Linked DNA regions of Homo sapiens: region 2 is linked to region 1. The links come from fine-mapping of genetic effects on gene expression. Tissue or cell type: nucleus accumbens. Region 1 holds a variant in brackets; the other region holds the start of a gene. All regions are shown on one strand. Distances are between the middles of the regions.

Region 1 (10,772 bases):
TGGAGTGCAGTGGCGGGATCTCGGCTCACTGCAAGCTCCGCCTCCCAGGTTCAAGCCATTCTCCTGCCTCAGCCTCCCGAGTAGCTGGGACTACAAGCGCCCGCCACCACGCCCGGCTAATTTTTTGTATTTTAGTAGAGACAGGATTTCACCATGTTGCCCAGCTAGTCTTGAACTCCTGAGCTCAGGCAATCCACCCGCCTTGGCCTCCCAAAGTGCTGGGATTACAGGCATGAGCCACCATACCCAGCTGGGAATTTACATTTTAACAGTGGAATTTCATATCATTGAAAACGAGATGGACTTTTCTCCATAAAACTAAGACACTCAATAGCCATCTGGAAAGGTATAAAGTTAGAGGTAGATTGGAGATTTATTATTTATTTATTTTTTTTTTTTTTAATTTTTTTTGAGAGAGAGTCTTACTCTGTCACTTAGGCTGGAGTGCAGTGGCATCATCTCGGCTCACTGCAACCTCCACCTCCTGGGTGGAGGCGATTCTCCTGCCTCAGCCTCCCAAGTAGCTGGGATTACAGGCGTGCGCCACCATCCTCAGCCTAGATTGCAGATTTAAATGTCAAAAACGACACCTCAGGCAGGGCGTGGTGGCTCACGCCTGTAATCCCAGCACTTTGAGAGGCCGAGGCAAGTGTATCACCTGAGGTCAGGAGTTCGTGACCAGCCTGGGCAACATGTTGAGACCCCCATCTCTACTAAAAATACAAAAATTAGCTGGGTGTGGTGGTGTGCTCCTGTAATCCCAGCTACTTGGGAGGCTGAGGCAGGAGAATGGCTTGAACCCGGGAGGCAGAGATTGCAGTGAGCCAGGATGACGCCACTGCACTCCAGCCTGGGTGACAGAGAGAGACCCTGTCTCAAAAAGAAAAAAAAGTTCATAACTCATGTAAGTTATGAGTGGCTAAATTCCTGGCATTACATTCTATTTGTATTAATAGCTATTGGGCTCACTGTTAACACAAGGTTTGGAACAGAGCCAGAGTTAAATGTATAAATATATACATTTGCTGTGTGAAGGATTAATTGTTCCTTTTCAACTCTCAGAAACCTACATCCTCCTACTCCAACATCATTCCTGACTGGCAAACTCCTATAACGCCCTCAGTTACCTCATCAAACCTCCCCACCTTGGGTGTTCCATCTCACCCAGAGAAAAGTCCCAAGTCCCCACCAGGAGCTTTGAGGTCTTGTAAGATCTGGCTGTCACCTCCTCTCTTGCGCGGCCTGCTTTTTCTTGGGCTTTCTTCTCAACACTCCCTTGCTCCCTCTGCTGCCAGGCACCACGGGTTTCTGCTGTTCTTCAAGTACACCAGGCAGGCTCCAGCCTCAGGGCCTTTGCACTGACTTTTTTTTTTTCTTTTTTTTTTGAGAAGAAGTCTCGCTCTGTCACCCAGGCTGGAGTGCAGTGGCGGGATCTCGGCTCACTGCAAGCTCCGCCTCCCAGGTTCAAGCCATTCTCCTGCCTCAGCCTCCCGAGTAGCTGGGACTACAAGCGCCCGCCACCACGCCCGGCTAATTTTTTGTATTTTAGTAGAGACAGGATTTCACCATGTTGCCCAGCTAGTCTTGAACTCCTGAGCTCAGGCAATCCACCCGCCTTGGCCTCCCAAAGTGCTGGGATTACAGGCGTGAGCCGCCGTGCCCGGCCGCACTGACTGTTCCTTCTGCTTGGAACACAGTTCCCTCACATGTTCACAAGGTGGCTCTCTCACCTCCTTCAGGTCTTTGCTCCAAATGTCACCTCCATGAAACCTTTACTTGGCACACTGTAAATTATAACATCCTCTCCCAATACACACTCTCTATGCCTGTCTCTCTCGCTCTGTCTCTCTCTTTTTTTTTTTTTTTTTTTGAGACAGAGTCTCGCTCTGTTGCCCAGGCTGGAGTGCAGTGGCGCGATCTCGGCTCACTGCAAGCTCCGCCTCCCGGGTTCACGCCATTCTCCTGCCTCAGCCTCCCGAGTAGCTGGGACTTCAGGCGCCCGCCACCATGCCCGGCTAATTTTTTGTATTTTTAGTGGAGACGGGGTTTCACTGTGTTAGCCAGGATGGTCTCCATCTCTTGATCTCGTGATCCGCCCACCTCGGCCTCTCAAAGTGCTGGGATTACAGGCGTGAGCCACCATGCCCGGCCCTCTGTCTGTCTTTTTAATTTAATTTTTTCTTTTGAGATGGGATCTCACTCTGTCTCCCAGGCTGGAGTGCAGTGGTATCATCATAGCTCACTGCAGCCTGGGGTCTCACTTTGTTGCCCAGGCTGGTCTCAAACTCCTGGGCTCAAGTAGTCCTCCTGCCTTGGCCTCCTAAAGTGGCGGGATTACAGGCGTGAGTCCTGGCCCTTCTCTGTCTTTCCTGCTTTATTTTTCCCCGTAACCAATCCTGATCACCACATGACATATTATATATCTTATTTATTTGTCCCTGCTCTGTCGGCCCAATACAGTGTCAGCTTTTGGAAATCAGGGGATTTTGTCCATCTCATTCATTGCTCTATCCCCAGAACCTAGACTCTAACCAACAAGTAACTTAGCCAAGGCCGGGCGCGGTGGGTCACGCCTGCAATCCCAGCACTTTGGGAGGCTGAGGCAAGTGGATCACTTGAGGTCAGGAGTTCAAGACCAGCCTGGCCAACATAGTGAAACCTTGACTCTACTAAAAATACGAAGAAAATAGCCAGGCGTGGTGGCTCACGCCTGTAATACCATCTACTCAGGAGACTGAGGCAGGAGAATCGCTTGAACCTGGGAAGCGGAGGTTGCATTGAGCCGAGATCACACCACTGCCCTCCAGCCTGGGCAATAAAGTGAGATTCCATCTCAAAAATAAAATAATAATAATAAATATATATATATAGATTATTTAAAAAAAAAAAAAAACTCCATCGTCCAGGCGCGGTGGCTCACGCCTGTGATCCCAGCACTTTGGGAGGCTGAGGCAGGCAGATCAAGAGGTCAGGAGATCGAGACCACCTTGGCTAACATGGTGAAACCCCGTCTCTACTAAAAATACAAAAAATTAGCCAGGCGTGGTGGCAGGCGCCTGTAGTCCCAGCTACTTGGGAGGCTGAGGCAGGAGAATGGCATGAACCTGAGAGGCGGAGCTTGCAGTGAGCTGAGATCGGCCACTGCACTGTAGCCTGGGTGACAGAATGAGACTGCATCTCAAAAAAAAAAAAAGCCACCAACAAAAAACAAGTAACTAAGCTATTACATGTGGTGTGATAATATGCTAATTTCCTTTATCTGTAAAGCTTTTTTACTCTTCAGCAAAAAAGGAAACCCCATTTTTTAATAAAAATGGGTAAAAGATACAAACAGAAAATTCATGGAAAAAAATTAAGCTAAATCAAATTGTAAAAATCTCGGCCAGGCGTGGTAGCTCATGCCTGTAATCCCAGCACTTTGGGAGGTCGAGGTGGGCAGATCACCTAAGCTCAGGAGTTCGAGATCAGCCTGGCCAACATGGAGAAACCCCCCTCTCTACCAAAAATACAAAAATTAGCTGGGCGTAATGGTGGGGACCTGTAATTCCAGCTACTCGGGAGGCTGAGGCAGGAGAATCACTTGAACCTGGGAGGCGGATGTTGCAGTGAGCTGAGATCCCGCCATTGCACTCCAGCCTGGGTGACAGAGCGAGGCTCCGTCTCAAAAAAAAAAAAAAAAAAAAAAAAAAAAAAAAGGCCAGGCGCGGTGGCTCACGCCTGTAATCCCAGCACTTTGGGAGGCTGAGGCGGGCGGATCACGAGGTTAGGAGATCGAGACCGTCCTGGCTAACGTGGTGAAACCCCGTCTCTACTAAAAAAAATACAAAAAATTAGCCAGGCGTGGTGGCGGGCACCTGTAGTCCCCGCTACTCGGGAGGCTGAGGCAGGAGAATGGAGTGAACCCGGGAGGCGGAAGTTGCAGTGAGCCAAGATCGCGCCACTGCACTCCAGGCTGGGCCACAGAGCGAGAGTTCGTCCCCCCAAAAAAAAAAAACAAAACTCATTTGGCCAGGCATAATGGCTCATACCTGTAATCCCAGCACTTTGGGAGACTGAGCCAGGAGGATTGCTTGAGCTCAGGAGTTTGAGACCAGCCTGGGCAACATAGTGAGACTCTGTCTCTACAAAAAAAAAAAAAAAAAAAAATTAAGTTAGCTAGGTGTGGTGGCATGCGCCTATAGTCTCGGTTACTCAGGAGGCTGAGGTGGGAAGATTGCTTGAGCCTGGGAGGTTGAGGCTGCAGTGAGCCATGATTGCGCCACTGCATTCCGGCCTGGGCAACAGAGCAAGACCCTATCTCAAAAAAAAAAAATCTCACTAGCTGTGTGGCCCCAGGTAAGTGATTTAACCTCTCTGGTCCTCAGTTTTCCTGACTATAAGATACAGGAACTATTCAATAAATACTTGTTGAATGAATAAATGATTGAATCAATAAAACATCTAACTCATGGACTGTTGTAAAAATTAGATGACTTAGTACACATAGAAGGCTTAGAATATTTTAGTATGCCCTATGCAAAAGTTAGCAGTTATTACTTTTTAAAATAGTATTATTTGTGGTTATTATATGCATCCATCAAGATTTCTCTCAAATGTCACCTCCTGCGGGAAGCCTTCCCAGATGAGACCAGACAGATGAATTCCTTTATGGAGAATTAATCAGAGACGTTGAAGAGTGAATTAATAAAAAGGTTACTGATACAGTAATTATGTCAGTCAGGTATCTCAGGGCCGCCAAAGGACTTTATGCGGTTCTCTCTTTAAACTCTAGCAAAACATGTTCCAGGAAAACTAAGCCCACTTGATATATTCTGTATTCTACACCCCACACCAGGATCGGAACACATCGTAGTAATTATAGGGCTTCTCTCCCTGCCTGTAAACAGACTGAGCCAGCCTGTCGTAACCACTGGACTGAGCTCCTCAAAGCAGAGCCT[G/A]TCTCCCTCACTCAAGTATGCCCAGCACGTTACCCAAGCCTAGAACAAGGACACTTCTCAGTAAATCCTGGTGGATCAAATAAATGAACCATTCTCTTCCCTTGCTTCTCAATTGGGAACATGCATAAGCCCAGGGATATGCAATGGCGTGTCAAGGATTCATAAACTCGTGGCAAATATTTTGGATCAACAATTTTACTTCATCTTTGGAAGGAAAACTCATCTTTGTATTAAAATGGTCATGTCATGGAGTCGAATGTGAATTTTTTTTTTTTTTTTTTTTTTGAGACAGAGTCTCACTCTGTCACCCAGGCTGGAGTGCAGTGGCGCAATCTTGGCTCACTGCAATCTCCACCTGCCAGGTTCAAGTGATTCTCCTGCCTCAGTCTCCCAAGTAGCTGGGATTACTGGTGTGTGCCAACACACCCGGCTAATTTTTGTATTTTTACCAGAGATGGGGTTTTGTCATGTTGGCCAGGCTGGTCTCGAACTCCTGACCTCAGGTAATCCACCCGCCTCAGCCTCCCAAAGTGCTGGGATTACAGGTGTGAGTCACCACGCCCGGCTCGAATGCAAAATTTTTTATGACAAAATTAGACTTAAAAGAAATCTCTGTGGAAGAGCTGGTTCCTAAAACCCCTAAATGAGAGGGCACACTTCCCTTGTTTTCTCTCTACTGGAAAACCTGAAAAGTAGTATGTTAGTGCAACTGATGTTTATAAAGGAAGAGTCATGGTTGTTCAGGATTGGTCCGTGTTAAGCAGAAGGAGGTCTGCTATGAGCCACGTGGGATAAGAAACATTATGTGATTGGATCTTAGACAATTGGGGGTGAATCTGGGGAGGTGAGGACCCAGAAAGGGATGGTGGTCAAAACTAAAATAAGATAAAGATATCCATCTCACCCCAGTTAAAATAGCTTATATCTGGCCAGATGCAATTGCTCACGCCTGTAATCCCAGCACTTTGGGAGGCTGAGGCGGGCAGATCACCTGGGGTCGGGAGTTCACGACCAGCCTGACCAACATGGAGAAACGCTGTCTCTACCAAAAATACAAAAAATTAGCCAGGCGTGGTGGAGCATGCCTGTAATCCCAGCTACTCATGAGGCTGAGGCAGGAGAATTGCTTGAACCTGAGAGGCGGAGGTTGCAGTGAGCCGAGATTGCACCATTGCACTCCAGCCTGGGCAACAAGAGTGAAACTCCGTCTCAAAAAAAAAAAAAAAAGCTTATATCCAAAAGACAGCAAAGAACAAATGCTGGTGGAGAAAAGGGAACCCTCATACTCTGTTGGTGGGAATGTAAATTGGAGGTTCCTCAAAACTAAAAATTAAGCTAAAAATTGATCCTGCCATCCCACTGCTGGGTATATACCCAAAAGAAAGGAAATCAGTAGATTAAGGAGATCTCTGCACTCCCATATTTTTTGCAGCACTGTCCACGACAGTGAAGATTTGGAAACAACCTGAGTGTCCATCAACAGAAGAATGGATACAGAAAATGTGGTGCTTATACACAATGGAGTACTATTCAGCCATGAAAAAGAATGAGATCCTGCCATTTGCAAAAACGTGGATGGAACTGGAGGTCATTATGTTAAGTGAAATAAGCCAGGCACAGAAAGACAAACGGCATGTTCTCATTTATTTGTGGGAATTAAAATAATCAAAACAATTGAACGAGGACAGGCATGTTGGCTCACGCCTGTAATCCCAGCACTCTGGGAGGCCGAGGCGGGTGGATCACTTGAGGTCAGGAGTTCCAGACCAGCCTGGCTGACATGGTGAAACCCCATCTCTACTAATACAAAAATTAGCCAGGCGTGGTGGCGCGTGCCTGTAATCTCAGCTGCTAGGGAGGCTGAGGCATGAGAATCACTTGAACCTGGGAGGCAGAGGTTGCAGTGAGCCAAGATCGCACCATTACACTCCAGCCTGGGCGACAGAGTGAGACTCCATCTCGAAACAAAACAAAACAAAAAAAGCAGTTTTTTTTTTTTTTTTAACATATAGACAGAAGGTTACCAGAGGCTGGGAAGGGTCGTCGGCGGGATGGATGGGGGAGGTGGGGATGGTTAATGGGTACAATACTCAACACAAATAGAAAGAATGAATAAGACATACTATTTGATAGCACAACAGGATGACTATTGTTAATAATAATAGTACATTTCAAAATAGCTAAATGAATGTAATTGGATTGTTTGTCACACAAAGGATAAGTTCTTAAGGGGATGGCGACTTCATTCTCCACAATGTGATTATTTCTCATTGCATGCCTGTATCAAATATCTTGTGAACCCCATACATATATACAGCTACCATGTACCCGCACAATTAAAAATTAAAAATTTAAAAATAAACTATATTCGTGATGGCAAAATAATAATAATAATATAGGGATGGCGAGATCTTGTTTAAAAGTTACTGAGGCTGGGCGTGGTGGCTCAGGCCTGTAATCCCAACACTTTGGGAGGCCGAGGTGGGAGAATCACTTGAACTCAGGAGTTTGATACCAGCCTGGGCAACATAGAGAGACCCTTATCTCCAAAAAAAAAAAAAAAAAAAAAAAATTACTAACCAGGGAGCGCTAGGGTTGCTGGAGGAGGGGTGTATCAAAGTTTTTTTTTCTGTGACTAGTATTGGGTTTTAAGTCTCTGTAGGCCAGTCTGCTGGGCAATTTAGAAACTGAACCGGGACAGAGAGGACAAATTGGAACCTACAAGAACAATCTAGGCCAGGTGCGGTGGCTCACTCCTGCAATCCCAGCATTTTTGGAGATTGAGGCAGGCGGATCATTTGAAGTCAGGAGTTCGAGACCAGCCTGGCCAACATGGTGAAACCCCATCTCTATGAAAATACAAAAATTAGCTGGGCATGATGGCGGGTGCCTGTAATCCCAGCTACTCAGGAGGCTGAGGCCGGAGAATCGCTTGAACCCGGGAGGTGGAGGTTGCAGTGAGCAGAGATGGCACCATTGCATTCCAGCCTGAGCAACAGAGCGAGATTCCGTCTCAAAAAAAAAAAAAAAAAAAAAAAAAAATTAGAATCCTTGAAGACAAACTGGAACCCCCGCCCCCAACCAACGTCTCTTTTCCCACCTTCAACCTCAATTCCACGCTTGACCTGCAGGGGAAGCTGGTGCCTTTTGCCCCCACAGAGCTGCTCCGGTGCTGGCCCCAAGTTCACCGACGCTGAAAAGGAGACCGGCAGGAGCAGGTGGAGTCCCAGAGGCTGCCCCAAGCCAATAAGGTGAGCCCACAGACCAGTCATGAAATGCATGAGCCATGTGGCACCCTGTGCAGACCTTCTCACAGCACCAGCCGCTGTGTAAATCTAATGCACATTTCTCTTTTAGACGACTCTAACCAACAGCCACCTGCAGAAAGCTATTCTAGGACACACAAGCCCAGCTTAGCTAAACTGGCACTGAACAAAATCAACATACAGCCCAGAGAGGGAACTGTCATCCAGAAACTTCACGACAGAACAGGAACTAAGCCGCGTGACACAATATGGGACCCCTTTCTCAGGGAACTCCATGGTATTGTATAATGTTAAATCTGTGCGCCCAGGAGTCAGGGTGCTGAGGCGGGAAGTCTAGCTTTGCCATTCACTAGCTGTGTGACCTTAGGTAAGTGAATTAACCTCTCTGATCTTCGGTTTTCCTGACTATAAAACCGGAGGCATCAGGCCGGGCGCGGTGGCTCACGCCTGTAATCCCAGCACTTTGAGAGGCCAAGACGTGCAGATCACGAGGTCAGGAGATCGAGACCATCCTGGCTAACACGGTAAAACCCCGTCTCTACTAAAAATACAAAAAAATTAGCCGGGCCTAGTGGTGGGCGCCTGTAGTCCCAGCTACTCGGGAGGCTGAGGCAGAAGAATGGCGTGAACCCGGGAGGCGGAGCTTGCAGTGAGCCGAGATCGTGCCATTGTACTCTAGCCTGGGCAACAAGAGCAAAACTCCATCTCAGGAAAAAAAAAAATCTAGTATTGATGAGCATGTGGCGAAACTGGATTTTTTTTTTTTACACTGTTTGGTGGGAGAATAAAATGGTACGACCAGTTTGGGAAACTTGTAGAATCTGCTAAGGCATTTGTTCAGGCTTAAAACTAATGGATATGTACATATATGTTCACCAAGAAACATAGACCACGTAATATGTGATTCCATTTATGTAAAATACAAAAACAGGCAAAACTAACCTATGCTGTTGAAAGTCAAGATAGTGGCTTCCCTTAAGAGGATATAGTGATTTGGAGAAAGCACAGGATATCCTCTGGGAATGCTATGATGTTCATTTACTGATTTGGGTGCTGGTTACACCATGTGTTCAGTTAATGGATTTTCATTTATAATTCGTGCACTTCTGACTACGTGTAAAAACAAAGTTTCAGGGGATGTCGGTTTCAGGTGTTGTTTGATCCTGAGGCATATGATGTCTTCCTGACTATGGCCTGGTTTCTGGTTGTTCCCTCAACTCTGCCTTCCTCTAGATGCAAAGTTCATCCTCAAAGTGTTTATTGGCTGGACGCGGTGGTTCATGCCTGTAAGCCCAGCACTTTGGGAGGCCGGGGCAGGTGGATCACTTGAGGTCAGGAGTTTGAGACCAGCCTGGACAACATGGTGAAACCCTGTCTCTACTAAAAACACAAAAAGTTAGCCGGGCGTGGTGGCGGGCGCCTGTAATCTCAGCTGTTTTACAGGCTGGGGCAGGAGAATTGCTTGAACCTGAGAGGTTGAGGTTGCAGTGAGTCGAGATCGCGCCACTGCACTCCAGCCTGGGCGACAGAGCAAGACTCTGTCTGAAAGAAAGAAGGAAAGAAAGAAAAAAGAAGGAAGGAAGGAAGGAAGGAAGGAAGGAAGGAAGGAAGGAAGGAAGAGAGTTTGTCATGCTTCCAAGACAGCCTCCTGTAGCTCCTATACTTAGTCTTTCACGTCTAGGAGGAAAGAGAGAGTCTTCCTCCGCTTACCAGTTGCAGAAATCCTTACCTTCATTCTGACTGGACTTACTGAGTTCACGTGTCTAACCTTTAACCAATCTCAGAGAAGAGGGGCATATTAAGCACTAATTGCTTTTTGTCCAGGTTACCTGGGTGACCATTTCTGAACCAATCACTGTGGGAAGGAGGGTGAGATTATGCTAATTGGTTCAAGCCAATCAGGGCTTATCCCTGGAACTGGGGGTATAAAGGGTGTCGACCTAACCCAAATGTTTTGGCTTTATTAATGGGGACTGGGGAGGAGAGGAATAGACATTGTGGATGTCATCACATGGGGGAGACATTTCTTATTTATTTTTAAACATTTATTTGAAACAACCATAAACCTACAGAAGAGTTGCAAATATAGTATAAAGAATGTTTTCGCGGCCAGGTGCAATGGCTGTGGCCTGTAATCCTAGCATTTTGGGAGGCCGAAGTGGATGGATCACCTGAGGTTGGGAGTTCAAGACCAGCCTGGCCGACATGGTGAAACTACATCTCTACTAAAAATACAAAAATTAGCTGAGCTTGGTGGCACATGCCTGTAATCCCAGCTACTTGGGAAGCTGAGGCAGGAGAATCGCTTGAACTGGGGAGGCAGAGGTTGCAATGAGCCAAGATCGGGCCACTGCACTCTAGCCTGGGCAACAGAGGGAGACTTCATCTCAAAAAAAAAAAAAAAAAAAAAAGAATGTTTTATCCTCTGAAGCATTTTGAGTCTAAATTGTCATATCGCTCTGAATATTATAGTGTGTGTGTGTGTGTGTGTGTGTGTCCTACATGCAAGAACATTCCACTGTAAAGATACATTTGTTCCCTTTGATGAGTATTATATGGGCAGGTACTT
Region 2 (8,138 bases), 21 kb after region 1:
ACAGTTCTCGTTTTTATTATTTTATTCTGTGATGGCTGGAGAAGGGTCTCACCTGCCAGAGATCTGTGCAATTAAAAACACCCACAGCTGAACCGTTCAGGGGCTGGCAATTTTTTTTTTTTTTGAGATGGAGTCTCGCTCTGTTGCCCAGGCTGGCGTGCAGATGGGCGATCTCCGCTTCCTGCAGCCCTGACCTCCCGGGCTCAAGCGATAGGCCCACCTCAGTCTCCCGAGTAGCTCAGACCACAGGCGCACACCATAATATTCGGCTAATTTTTAAATTTTTTGTGGAGACCGGAGTCTCGCTATGTTGCCCAGGCTGGTCTCCAATTCCTGGGCTCAAGCGATCCTCCTGCCTTGGCTTCCCAAAGTGCTGGGATTACAGGCATGAGTCACCGCCCCCGGCCGGAGGTTGACGATTTTTGCAAAAATATGGAACATTTGGGATTTTCATTTCTTAGATTATCCTCCTTGCGCCGCTCCCTGCTCCCCCACCAAATAAAAAAAGAAAAACAAACAAAAAACAAAACAAACAAACAAAACGAAAGCCCTTTTATGACTACAAAACCCAAACGTCTCATCTGCGAGGTCACCACTTGGAAGGCACTGTCATGAGCCCTCAGACTTGCGATTCTTTAATCAGCATTCCTGAAACCTAGGTGTCCTTAGGATTTTTCATTTTTTGGTTTCTACAAACAGCTTTTCAGGGAAGCTGGCTTTGGGGATGAGGCCTAAGGGAGGCACCAGGGGCAGAAAAGAGGAGCTCCTGCCCTCGTCCTCCGTGGCGCCCCCACCCCCACCATCTCCCTGCAGCCTCGCCTCCGCCTCCGCCCCACCCGCTTAGTTTTGATCCGCGCGGAGGAGCGCGTCCCGTGGTTGCCATGGAGACCGCCGGACTGCGGAGGCCACAAACTGTGCGAAGGGGGAGGCGAGGGGCGGGGCCGCGGGAGGCCCGGGGGCTGAGCGCGGCGGCTGGGACTGAGCCAGGGAGAAAGAGGAGAAAAATCCAGCGAAGCCCAACGACCTGGCTCTGCAAGAGAAAAACAACCTGAATAAGCCGGTAATTGTGAACAGGCCGCTCGCTGAGACCTTAACGTCCCCTAAGCCCCCACATCTTTTCTTTCCCTCTGGCCCGTCTCTTTTTCCTCCGTTCCCTCTTTAAAAATTTGCCTGGTTCCTTTATGAGTTAAATAAGATCACATTTATTTATTTATTTGAGACGGAGTCTCGCTCTGTCGCCCAAGGTGGAGGGCAGTGGCGCGATCTTGGCTCACTGCAACCTCCGCCTCCCAGTTCAAGCGATTCTTCTGCCTCAGCCTCCCCAGTAGCTGGGATTACAGGCATGTGTCACCATGCCCGGCTAATTCTTATATTTTTGTTCGTTTCTTTTTTTTGTTTGTTTGTTTTTGAGACGGAGTTTCGCTCTTGTTGCCCAGGCTGGAGTGCAATGGCACGGTCTCAGCTCACTGCAACCTCTGAATCCCGGATTCAAACGATTCTCCTGCCTGAGCCTCCGGAGTAGCTGGGATTACAGGCATGCGCCACCAAGACAGGCTAGTTTTGTAGTTTTAGTAGAGGCGGGGTTTCACCATGTTGGCCAGGCTGGTCTCAAACTTCTGACCTCAGGTGATCCACCCGCTTCAGCCTCCCAAAATGCTGGGATTACAAGCGTGAGCCACCGCGCCCGGCAATTTTTGTATTTTTTAGTAGAGATGGGGTTTTGCCATGTTGACCAGGCTGGTCTCAAACTCCGGACCTCAGGTGATCCGCCCGCCTCAGCCTCCCAAAGTGCTGGATTAAAGGCGTGAGCCACGGCGCCCAGCCTGAGATGGAGAATTTTCAAAAGAGTAGAGACAGATCGGACCTAAGTTTTTAAAAGATGCCCCCAGCTTCTGGATGGGGCCTGGATTGCAAGCAGTGATGGGGAGGCGGGAAGCCCAGTGAGGGGGCTTTGTACACATCCAGGCAAGAGTGGCTGCAAGTATTGTGGCTGCTAAGTGGTTAAATGGTGCAACACATTTAGGAGAAGGGGATTAGCTGTGTCTTTAGCGTCAGCTAGTGTTTTAAATGCTAGTGCCCAAGATCTGGTTCTAATATTATATTAGATCCACCACTCAGAGCTGTGCAACTTCAGACCAGCCTCAGTTTCACCGTCTGTAAAAAGATGATTGATGGCACTGGCCTTACCATGTACCTCTGAGGGTTCCTAACAACGAGGCCTATTCAACATGTCTCTGGATGCCTGGTTCCAAAGATGTGGACCAATGCTAGTCGCATGTCCTGTAGCAGGAGGAGCCACGGACAAAACCCCTCAGACACTGGGTTAAGGAAGGATTTGGCTTTTTCGGCCGGGAGCTTCGGCAGACTCGCCTCTCAACTGGCGGGAGCTTCGGTAGACTCGCGTCTCAAGAACCGAGCTCCCGGCCGAATGCGACTAGCATTGGTTCACATCTTGATTCTTTTTTTTCTTTCTTTCTTTCTTTTTTTTTTTTTGAGACGGAGTCTTGCTCTGTCGTCCAGGCTGGAGTGCAGTGGTGCGATCGCGGCTCACTGCAACCTCCGCCTCCCGGGTTCAAGAGATTCTTCTGCCTCAGCCTCCCGAGTAGCTGGGACTACAGGCACGTACCACCACGCGCGGCTAATTTTTTTGCATTTTTAGTAGAGACAGGGTTTCACCGCGTTAGCCAGGATGGTCTTGTCTTGATCTCCTGACCTCGTGATCTGCCCGCCTCAGCCTCCCAAAGGGCTGGGATTACAGGCGTGAGCCACCGCGCCTGGCCATCTTGACTCTTTGGTCGACACAAAAGGCAGACTATTCTGGATTCAAATCCAAACTCAACCACTCCCCATGGCTGTGACCTTGAGAGTGTGGTTTTATGTCCTTGGGCCTCAGTTTCCTCAGCTGTCTAATGGGAATTGTACTCATGCTACCAGTCTCCTGTTATAGCAAGGATTTCCTGAGTTCATTCATAGAAAGCACTGGGAATGGTGCCTACTACATAGGAAGCGCCTCATAAACCGTGCCTATCCTTAGCCATCTCATTCTTTTTTCGAAGTTGCAAAATATTTCACTGTAAGATACTACCATAAAATAGAGGCAGTCTCTACTCGTGAACTTTTAGGGTTTTTTGTTGTTGTTTATTTGTAGGGGTTTTTTTGCACTTTTGTTTTTTTGAGACAGTCTCCCTCTGTTGCGCAGGCCGGAGTGCAGTGGCGCGATCTCTGCAACCTCCACCTCCCAGGTTCACGCCATTCTCCTGCCTCAGCCTCTCGCGTAGCTTGGGACTACGCACGCGCACCACCACACCCGGGGTAGAGACGAGGGTTTCACCATGTTGGGCAGGCTGGTCTCGAACTCCTGGCCTCAAGTGTTCCACCCACCTGGGCCTCCCAAAGTGCTGGCATTACAGGCATGAGCCACCGCGCCTGGCCATGAACATTTGGGTTTATTCATCCCCTCAAAAATATGTATTGAGCCCTGACCTGCCAAGCGCCACAGTGGGACTGTTGCAGTCAGGTACCCATTTCTCTACCCACGCATATAGGTGTACGGGTACCGATAGTCGCGTGAATTTAAAATGCTAATCTGTGGTGCCAGTGGCTCTCAAAAAGTAGAATCCACTAGCACACCCACCTCCCGGACTTGGCTGGAAACTTGCACATTTCGGATGGCAGGTTTGGGAACCGCTGCCTTTCAGGAAAGGTGCTGACGTGGGCCACTGCCGCTTCGCTGGGAAGCAATGGGCCCAGCTAGGCCCGGGGCGCGGCCACACCCCTGTGGGGGAGGGGAAGGAGGCCGCCCCGAAGGGAGTGGACAGCCCCCCTGTCAGTCTTCCAGAGTCTGGGAGTGTAAGATGAGACGGGGGAAGGTGGGCCTCATTCTGGCGGAGGGCGAGGAGGAACTTCCTGCCCGCGCGCTCCACGGTGCAGAGCTCTAAGCGCGCGGGCTGGCAGGCTGCGGCGCGTCAAGGTCAGCCTGGAGCTGGGTGGCGGCCTGCCTGGGGGCGGGGGACCCTACTGGAGGCCCGGGCTGGGGCCTCCCAGCGCCTCGGCCATATTGAATAGCTTCGACTGGACCGTCTTTGTCTGCGAAGTCCTGTCCCAAGTTCCAGCCGCGTCCCTGGGGCCTGGGGCAGGAAGAGTCGCTGGCAGCCCGCGCGCCCCAACTTGGAGCTGGGACACCACGTTTCCAGCTTGGAGTGGGCCTTGAGCCTTGGGACTGACCTCGCCCCCGGCTCACGTAGGCATCCTGGAAATTGATTCCCCCAAGTCCTTGGTGGGGGAGCCGGACTTGGTCAAGACTGTACTTGTTGCAGGCGAAGAGATTGGAGGCGTTTGGCTCGTCCCTGGCTAGGGAGGTGAGACTCTCCGGTCAGCGTTGCTGGAACTCCCCCCATCCAGTCCCTCCCTCAAGACTAAGGGCTACAGTAGTTTGTTGGGGCTCATTGCCCCCTCACCCCAGATATCACCCTGGAGATCTTAAAGACTCTCGAGAAAAGCCACGTGGGGGGCTGGTTCCCCTGGGGCTTCCTGCCGTCCCCCGACTGCCTCATTCTTTGGAGCGTCCCCGATGTCTGCAAAGATGTGGATTTGGACGTCCTCGTGGAAGCCCTAAAGCCCGTGGGGACATTTAAGAAGATCGGCAAGGTGTTCCGCAAGGAGGAGGACTCCACGGTGGGGATGCTGCAGATCGGGGAGGACGTCGACTATTTGCTCATCCCCCGGGAGGTCAGGCTGGCTGGGGGCGTCTGGAGAGTCATCTCTAAGCCCGCCACCAAGGAAGCAGAATTTCGGGAGCGGCTGACCCAGTTCCTGGAAGAAGAGGGCCGCACCCTGGAGGACGTGGCCCGCATCATGGAGAAGAGCACCCCGCACCCGCCCCAGCCCCCCAAAAAGCCCAAGGAGCCCCGAGTGAGGAGGAGAGTGCAGCAGATGGTGACTCCTCCGCCCCGGCTGGTCGTGGGCACGTACGACAGCAGCAACGCCAGCGACAGCGAGTTCAGCGACTTCGAGACCTCCAGAGACAAGAGCCGCCAGGGCCCGCGGCGGGGCAAGAAGGTGCGCAAAATGCCCGTCAGCTACCTGGGCAGCAAGTTCCTGGGAAGCGACCTGGAGAGTGAGGATGATGAGGAACTGGTCGAGGCCTTCCTCCGGCGACAGGAGAAGCAGCCCAGCGCGCCGCCTGCCCGCCGCCGCGTCAACCTGCCAGTGCCCATGTTTGAGGACAACCTGGGGCCTCAGCTGTCCAAAGCGGACAGGTGGCGGGAGTATGTCAGCCAGGTGTCCTGGGGGAAGCTGAAGCGGAGGGTGAAGGGTTGGGCGCCGAGGGCGGGCCCCGGGGTGGGCGAGGCCCGGCTGGCCTCCACCGCAGTGGAGAGCGCAGGGGTATCATCGGCGCCAGAGGGCACCAGCCCGGGGGATCGCTTGGGAAACGCGGGAGATGTTTGTGTGCCCCAGGCTTCCCCTAGGCGATGGAGGCCCAAGATCAACTGGGCCTCCTTTCGGCGCCGCAGGAAGGAGCAGACAGCACCCACAGGTCAGGGGGCAGACATCGAGGCTGATCAGGGGGGAGAGGCTGCAGATAGTCAAAGGGAAGAGGCCATAGCTGACCAGCGGGAAGGGGCTGCAGGTAATCAGAGGGCAGGGGCCCCAGCTGACCAGGGGGCAGAGGCTGCAGATAATCAGAGGGAAGAGGCTGCAGATAATCAGAGGGCAGGGGCCCCAGCTGAGGAGGGGGCAGAGGCTGCAGATAACCAGAGGGAAGAGGCTGCAGATAATCAGAGGGCAGAGGCCCCAGCTGACCAGAGGTCACAGGGCACAGATAACCACAGGGAAGAGGCTGCAGATAATCAGAGGGCGGAGGCCCCAGCTGACCAGGGGTCAGAGGTTACAGATAATCAAAGGGAAGAGGCCGTACATGACCAGAGGGAAAGGGCCCCAGCTGTCCAGGGTGCAGATAATCAGAGGGCACAGGCCCGGGCTGGCCAGAGGGCAGAGGCTGCACATAATCAGAGGGCAGGGGCCCCAGGTATCCAGGAAGCTGAAGTCTCAGCTGCCCAAGGGACCACAGGAACAGCTCCAGGAGCCAGGGCCCGGAAACAGGTCAAGACAGTGAGGTTCCAGACCCCTGGACGCTTTTCGTGGTTTTGCAAGCGCCGGAGAGCCTTCTGGCACACTCCCCGGTTGCCAACCCTGCCCAAGAGAGTCCCCAGGGCAGGAGAGGCCAGGAACCTCAGGGTGCTGAGGGCCGAGGCCAGAGCAGAAGCTGAGCAGGGAGAGCAAGAAGACCAGCTGTGAGGTGAGGGCTAGAGACAGCCCACGGGCCCTCCCTCCAAGTGTGGGAGGGAGAGATGCTCTGCCTCTGAACTTCAAAGTGGAGGTGGAGTGCTGGCCACGTCTCCACCTAACAACCCTCTTTATTCTCTTGTTAAAGTTTTGTTCATGCTTTGATTTTTTTTTAAATTTTTTAGAGACAGGGTCTCACTCTGTTGCCCAGGCTGGAGTGCAGTGGCATGATCATAACTCACTGCAGCCTCAAACTTCTGGCCTCAAGTGATCCTCCTGCCTCGGCCTCCCAAAATGCTGGGATTACAGATGTGAGCCACCACACACACCATCTGATTAAAAAAAAAAAATACTGATTCCTTGTAGCAACCCAAAAAATGTAAAGAAAGAATTCGACACAATGGGGTTGCGTCACCTATAGTTTTCATTTCCTCAAATGCAACTCAAGGTGCTCAGCTTGATAAAGGGAGAGAGGGAGGGCAGGGGAGAAACTGACTCCTTTTTCCATCTCTTTTTTGCCTGCACACTTAATGTGGACTGCCTCCTTGGACTTAAAAAGAGTTGAGCCAACATGCAAATCAAAAAACATTTATGAACTGATTTCTTAGCTTTGGACTTGACAACTGACGAATGCTCTGGGGGTGACCTGGCCCTTGCTGTCCGTTCCACTCCCATCCTTGATGATGGAGACACCTGTGTTTATGTTGTCACTTCGCTTGCCATCCTCATGCCCCGGGCTCTGCTGGTTTGGAGGGGACAGGGCCCTTGGTTTGCACACCTCACCCGATCTTGGTTATAAGGTACAGTAAAAGCGTCTGAAAAATGCATTCAAAACACAGATTCTGGGGCCCTCGGCACCAGAGGTGTGGATTTGCTAGCGGTGCCTGTGTGGCTCTGAATTCTGTTTGCATCAAGCTCCACGGACATCTGGGCAACTCGGCCACTGGACACATTGAAAAATCATTGCAATAGGAAAAGGCCCAAAAGAGGGGCTGTGGTTGGCCGGGCATGGTGGCTCACGCCTGTAATCCCAGCACTTAGGGAGGCCAAGGCGGGTGGATCACGAGGTCAAGAGATCGAGACCATCCTGGCCAACGTGGTGAAACCCCGTCTCTAATAAAAATACAAAAATTAGACTGGCCTTGTGGCGCACGCCTGTAGTCCCAGCTACTCTGGAGGCTGAGGCAAGAGAATCTCTTGAACCCAGGAGGTGGAGGTTGCAGTGAGCCGAGATTGTGCCATTGCACTCCAGCCTAGTGACACAGTGAGACTCTGTCTCAAAAAAAAAAAAAAAAAAAAAAAAAAAAAGAGGCTGTGTGTATTGTGCATTAATTGCTGCTGCATTTTTTTTTTTCTTTTTGGAGATGGAATCTCACTCTCTGTCTCCCAGGCTGGAGTGCAGTGGCACGATCTCGGCTCACTGCCATCTCCGCCTCCCTGGTTCAAGCGATTCTCCTCCCTCAGCCTCCCGAATAGCTGGGACTACAGGTGTGTGCCACCACACCTGGCTAATTTTTGTATTTTTAGTAGAGATGAGGTTTCACCATATTGGCCAAGCTTGTCTTGAACTCCTAACCTCAGCTGATCTGCCCACCTCTGCTTCCCAAAGTGCTGGGATTACAGGCATGAGCCACTGCACGCGGCCAACTGCTTCCTATAATTGGGAAGAAACTGGGTTGCTAAAGCCCTGTGGAGGTTAGGAGGAAGCTGGGGGCCTGTATTGCCTTGTGTCCCCACAACCCCTAGCAGTGAAAAACAGCAAATGACCACACTCTAGCCTTGCTGAGGGCAGGAGAAAAGAGAGTTCGTGGAGGTCCAAAGGCCAGTCTGTCTTCCTAACTGGTTGCAGGCCT

Evidence for each region. PIP is the estimated chance that this variant, and not a neighbour inherited with it, causes the effect.
Region 2: CCDC8 starts here. The variant in region 1 is fine-mapped to the expression of CCDC8 in nucleus accumbens (GTEx, PIP above 0.99). The same link has a PIP of 0.9 or more in amygdala, cerebral cortex, hypothalamus, prefrontal cortex and putamen.

The regions. Positions count from the first base shown.
Region 1 is chr19:46,429,392-46,440,163 of GRCh38, reverse strand. No RefSeq gene overlaps it. Among named protein-coding and RNA genes, the nearest start is that of PNMA8C, 5.8 kb to the right of the region's middle. RefSeq lists a silencer at 5,586-5,786. The variant G/A (reference allele first, on the strand shown) is at 4,938.
Region 2 is chr19:46,409,353-46,417,490 of GRCh38, reverse strand. It overlaps CCDC8 (coiled-coil domain containing 8 subunit of 3M complex), which reads left to right and starts at 3,927. Exons shown (of 1, transcript NM_032040.5): 1 at 3,927-7,162. The coding sequence starts at 4,681. The coding sequence ends at 6,297. RefSeq lists a silencer at 871-960 and enhancers at 1,387-2,219, 2,220-3,053, 4,720-5,553.